2 separate regions of the Homo sapiens genome follow, and region 1 is linked to region 2. Evidence: fine-mapped expression QTL. A gene starts in region 2. The other region holds a variant in brackets. All regions are shown on one strand. Distances are from middle to middle. Region 1 overlaps TTC7B (tetratricopeptide repeat domain 7B). Region 2 holds the start of TTC7B (tetratricopeptide repeat domain 7B).

Region 1 (2,897 bases), 280 kb after region 2:
CCCCCCCCCCATCTCTACAAAAAAAAAAAAATAGCCAGGTTTGGTGGCGTGCACCTGTAGTCCCAGCTGCTTGGGAGGCTGAGATGGGCTGATTGCTTGAGCCCAGGTGGTTGAGGCTGCAGTGAGTGATCACGCCACCGCAGTCCAGCCTGCATGAGAGAGCAAGACCCTATCTCTACAAATAAAATAAATTAAAAATTTTAAATGACCGCAAACTTAGCGTCTTAACACAAATTTATTCTCTTTGTTTTGGAGGTCAGAAGTCAAATCAAGCTTTCAGTGGGGCTGTGCTCCTTCCCCAGGCTCTGGAGGAGGACGGGTGTCCCCGTCTTCTCCAGCGGCTAGAGGCTTCCTGCGGCCTTGGCTCGTGGCCACCTCACGTCACCTTTCCTTCCTCTGCTCCGTCACTGCGTCACCTTTCTGCCTTTGACCTCCTGCCTCCCTCTAAGGACTCTGCTGGTTGCTCTGGGCCCCCTGGATAGTCCAGGGCCATTGCCCCACCTCGAGAGCCTTCGTTCAATCACATCTGCATCGCTCCATCTGTCATGGAAGGCAACATAGTCACAGGTTCCAGGGCTCGGGATGTGGACGTCTTTGAGGGGCAGGGGGAGCACGTTATTCTGCAGGCCGCAGCGTGGGAGCTGGGAGGCTGTCAGGCTCCTGCTGTCACACAGCGACCATGGTGCTTAGACCAAGGGGCGTGGAGGAAGTGGCGAGAGGCACTGGACTGTGAAGATTCTGAAGACAGAGCCAAGAGGGTTGCTCACACATGGAGCTGGGTGTGAGGGAGGGGAGACGCCAGGGATGAGGGTGAGGGTCTTGTCCTGAGCTACTGGAAGGATGGCGATGATGGCCAGGAAACAGGAAGAATAGGTTGGGGAGGAGAGGAGAAGGCAGGAGTCTGCTTTCAGGCAGGTTGAATACAAAATGCCTGTGGAGCCTCTGAGGGGGAGGCAGCTGGCTGGGCAGGAGCCCAGGCGAGAGCCCAAGATGAGGCGAGAGTGTGGGAGGTGTCAGGGATGCGGGGCTGGGAGCCATGGGCCTGACGGGGCCACTTCGGGACAAGCATAGACAAAGAGGAAGAGGTCAGGGCTGAGCTCCGGGGCTGGCGGGGTTTACAGGCTGGGAAATGAAGAGATCAGGAAAGAAGGCGCAGGAGCAGCTGCAAGGGAGGCGGAGAGCAGGCAGGGTGAGCTTCCTGGAGGAGGTGGGTGGGCTCTCTCAATGCCTGGAGACCCCGTCAGGGTGGCCTGAGAGCTGACCGTGGGCCTGGTGGTGTGCAGGTTGGCAGTGACCTTGACCAGAGCCATGCTGGGGATGCAGTTTTGCTCCCCCAGATTCATAGGGTGGAGCCCCCGCCCCTGTGTGACTATATTTGGAGATAGGCCCCTTAAGGAAGTAATTCAGGTGAAGTGAGGTCA[T/A]CAGGAGGGGCCCTGGCCCAGTAGGATTGGCGTCCTCACCAGAAGAAACTCTAAAGTGCAAGTGAGCTCACGCTCAGCCACGCCAGGACACACGGAGAAGGCGGCCACCCGCAAGCCAGGAGGGAGCCTCACAGGAACCCAGATGGGCTGGAACCTTTGCTTTGTTCTTTGAACCTCCAGGACTGTGAGAAATTAAGTTCATTGTTGAAGCCACCTGTCTGTGGCGGTTTTCTTACGGCAGCCCAAGCTGACTAAGGTGGGGTCAAGCCAGGTTGGAGTGGGCTCAAGGGGGAGGAAAAGGTGAAGTCTCTTTCAAGAGCGTAGCTGCAGAGGGGAGCTGAGAACACAGGTTAGGAGTCCGGTGGGGAAGGGGCCGTGTTGAGTGTTGAAGGCGGCCTCGCTGAGCACCTTGTGTTTCCAGCAGGGCAGGCGTGAGGAAGGAGAGAGGGAAGCTGAGGGGGGCTGCCTTGGCTGGGGGCCTGGTGGTTCCCCAGAGCAGCAGCAGCAGGGAGGCAGAGGCCTGGGTACCCCCAAGCCAGGGAGCCCTGGGGACGGGGCACCCACTCCTCAGTGAGCAGGGAGCCAACTTCGGGCAGGGTGGGGTGGCGAATGGACCAGGAAGGGAAGGAGGAGGCAGAGGAGGGAGGAGGCCCTTCTTTGAAGGAGCCGCCCCACTCAGCCAAGAGGATCTCAGGACAGAGCCAGGCTGGGGGCCTGGGCAGGTGTGGCCGGGGCAGGCCACTTCCCATCCCCAGCCCCATTTGGGATCCATGGGCTCGTCTGTCTGTCTCTCTGCCTCCTTCCAGGTCCTGGGCCCTGGGCTGTGGCCAGGGCTCTGCTCACCCTCAGGGCTGCGTGGGGACCTCCCTCGGTGGGGAAAGGAGGGAACCAAGGCCTCCCGTTATCCTCCATGCCCCCTACCTGTGGTCATGGCCTGGGGGAGGTGCATGCTCGTGCACAGGTGGGCGTGTCTGTGATCACATGGAGCAACCCAGACTCCTCCAGATGGCCCCACGCATCTCCCCGGCGGCCACACAGTCATCATTGCGGGCCCAGACTCTCTGCCTGCAGGAAGTCCCCCCTTTGCAGGCACCCTCCCCATCATCCTTGGAGTTCTCCACGTCTGCCCTGTCCGTGCTGGGCCTGTCACCAGCCTGTCACCTGCTGCCCCAGCCCCAGCCCAGGTCCCTGCAGCACAGCCGGCTCCAGGCTGGAATGGGTGACCCGGCCCTACTGAAGGAATTTCAGGGCAGGGTCAGCCACTCTGGCCACTGTCTCCCTCCAATGCCCCCATACCCTCCCAGCGCTCGGCCCCTGCCACTCGGCCCCCTCTCTCCATATCGCCACCTTCTCATTCCTGCTCCTCCCCCACCACCTCTCAAGGCCGACAGGGTGGGCATTGCCCAGTGAGGGGACACCACTCATATTGAAGTTCTGTAAACTGTGTCTTGGGCACTGTACCAGGTGGCTGCTCCC
Region 2 (2,880 bases):
TGTGACTGCGGGCGGGCTACGGAACCTTCCAGACTGACCGCTTCACTCTCAAATGCAGGACCCAGAATCCAACACTGCCACCACCACAGCTATTTCCCTGGCAGTATTCTCAACACTGCAGTCACAGTGATAGTCCAAAGTGTAGGTCTGATCATGCCACTCTTCCGTGAAAAGCCCTGCAGGGCTGCTCCATGTCACCAGAGTAAAAGTCAAAGTTTTTTTTTTTTTTTTTGAGACGGAGTCTCTCTCTGTTGCCCAGGCTGGAGTGCAGTGCTGCCATCTCAGCTCACTGCAAACTCCGCCTCCCGGGTTCACACCATTCTCCTGCCTCAGCCTCCCCAGCAGCTGGGACTACAGGCGCCTGCCACCACGCCCGGCTAATTTTTAAAAATATTTTTAGTAGAGACGGGTTTCACCATGTTAGCTAGGACGGTCTCGATCTTCTGACCTCGTGATCCGCCCACCTCGGCCTCCCAAAGTGCTGGGATTACAGGCGTGAGCCACCGTGCCCAGCCAAAAGCCAAGGTCTTATAATGGCCCACCAGGCACTACACAGAACTCCCCCCAACCTCTCAGAGTTCATCTCCTGCCTCGGCCCCTCTCCTTCGCTCCACCCAGCCCCTCTGGCCTCTGCCATTTCTCCATCCCACCCAGTGTGCTCTAACCCCAGAGCCTTCGCACTTGTGGTGTTCTCTGCCTGGGATACTCCTCCCCCAGAGATATCCTCATGGCTCCCCCTTAGTTTCTTCAAGTCTAATGCCACCTCCGTGAGGCCATCCCTGACTGCTCCATTTTAAATGGCAACACTTGCTCAGGCTGAAGTGCGTTCACTGCTCACTGCAGCCTCCACCTTCTGGGCTCAAGCAATCATCCTGCCTCAGCCTCCTGAGTAGCTGGGATTACAGGCATGAGCCACCCGCCTGTCCCAACTCTTTATGTTCCTCACTGAACCCTTCCCTGTTTCTTCAAATAGCCATTTTTACAGTCTAGTTTACTATTTTATTTTGCTTATTTTTCCCCCAAACTGGAATGTAAGCTCTCTCAAGCCAGGAATTTTGTTTTTTTAGCTCACAATTCTATCTCTGGCACCTAAAGCAGCGCCCAGCACATAGTAGGTGATCACTAGACAGTTGATTCACTGAGAGAACACAGAGGGACACCTCCCTAGGTCTCAGTCTAGGTGGCCAAGACAGGAGGCCCCACCAGTGACTGTGCCTTCCCCTCAGGGGGTCCGAGAGCTGGCGTGTGAGAGTGGCAGCCCCTGCCTGGCTCCGCTCAGCCATCTAGGGCACCCCTGGCAGGTGCTGTGCCTTGCCTGGGATGGAGGAGTCTCCGTCCACCTCTGGCTGGGTAGGGGCTAAGGCTGCGGGGCAGAGGGGCATCTGCTAAGGGGCACAGGCCAACCGGGCCCCAGGGAACCGCTGGCCACCTGAGATGGCAGGACAAACTCGGGCAGGCCTCCCCCCACCCCTCACACCTGGCTCACTGGTCCCACCGGGCGGTGACCTTCCCCAGGGTCACTGCCCTTTCTTGGCCCTACTCCTGGGGATCCAACCCGCTCCCAGGCTGTCGCTAGCTCCCTCCCGATCCTCTCCCTCCCCTTCATCCTGCCCAGACCCCTACCCCACCAGACCCCTCACCCGCCCTTGGTCAGATCTCTCTCCTACCCCGCTCCCCCACCCCCATCCCCACTTCCCCTCGGTCTTCACCCCGCCCCAGACACCCCCAGTCCCTCTCCCTGTCCTCCATGCCCACCCCGCCTTTCCTCCCTCGGGCCCCTGTCTCCCGCCCTAGCCCCCGCCCCTGCCCCAGCCCTGGCTCCGGCCCCGGTCAGTGCTGCGGCTCCGGCCCTGGCCGGCAGGGGCCGCTCCTCGCGGCGCCCGGGGCCCCGCCGCGCCCGCCGCCGCCGCCCGCCTCCCCGCCCCTTCCCCAGCCGGCGCTCCCGTTACGCCGCGGAGCCGGGAGCCGGAGCCCGAGCCCGCGGCGGCGGCGGGAGGCGGCGAGGGGGCGCCGCGGCGGCGGCGGTGGGGCCTGCGGGGCGGGCGGCCGGGCCCGGCCAGGCCGCGATGGCGACCAAGAAGGCAGGCTCGCGGCTGGAGACGGAGATCGAGCGCTGCCGCTCCGAGTGCCAGTGGGAGCGGATCCCTGAGCTCGTCAAGCAGCTGTCGGCCAAGCTCATCGCCAACGGTACGCTCCGGGCGCGCCGGCCTGGGCTGCGGGGGGCGCCGCGGCCTCCGCGGGAACGGGCCCCCGAGGCGCGGCCGGGCGCGGGGCGCGGGCAGGGGCGCGGCCGGGCCGCGAGGGAGCTGCGGCCCAGGGGATGTGCGCGGGACCGGGGCCTGGGGGAGCCCGGGTGCCCCGGAGTCACGCGGTGTGGGGGCCCGGGGGGGCGCCAGGGGCTGTCCCGGCGCCTGGGGTTCAAGCGTGCAGGGCGGGCTTCTGCGGAGTCTGGGGTGTCCGGGGGTCTCAGCGAGTCCGCTGCTCCACTGGGACCACAGGAGGTCAGGGGCCGGCCTGGGGCTTCCAAGAAGTTGGAGGTGATGGGGTGAGGGGGTCCCTCAGGACATGGGTGAAGTCCACAGTGTGTGTATGGTGTGCTCAGGGAATCAGGATGTGTTTATGGGGTCTTGAGAATGGGGTGTTGTACATAGACCCCTGGGGAATCTGGTTTGTAAACATATGGTGTTTAAGGGGTTCTGGGTGGAAGCGCAGACTCGAGGTGTGTGGGGTGGTGGTAGAAAGCAGGCTGGGATGTGCGTCCTGGCGTTCGGAGAAGTAGCATCAAGGCTGCCGACCTAGAGAGGTCAGGGTTGGGAATAGAGGAGAAATAGAGTCAGGGGGACCTGGAGGGAGAATATTGTGGAGCGAGATGGGAATGTG

The links. PIP is the estimated chance that this variant, and not a neighbour inherited with it, causes the effect.
Region 1: its variant is fine-mapped to the expression of TTC7B in testis (GTEx, PIP 0.94).

Annotation. Positions count from the first base shown.
Region 1 is chr14:90,534,487-90,537,383 of GRCh38, reverse strand. It overlaps TTC7B (tetratricopeptide repeat domain 7B), which reads left to right. Exons shown (of 20, transcript NM_001010854.2): 20 at 1-2,897. Among named protein-coding and RNA genes, the nearest start is that of LINC00642, 81 kb to the right of the region's middle. RefSeq lists an enhancer at 2,848-2,897. The variant T/A (reference allele first, on the strand shown) is at 1,422.
Region 2 is chr14:90,815,482-90,818,361 of GRCh38, reverse strand. TTC7B (tetratricopeptide repeat domain 7B) reads left to right here and starts at 1,932. Exons shown (of 20, transcript NM_001010854.2): 1 at 1,932-2,187. The coding sequence starts at 2,067. RefSeq lists a silencer at 1,759-1,938.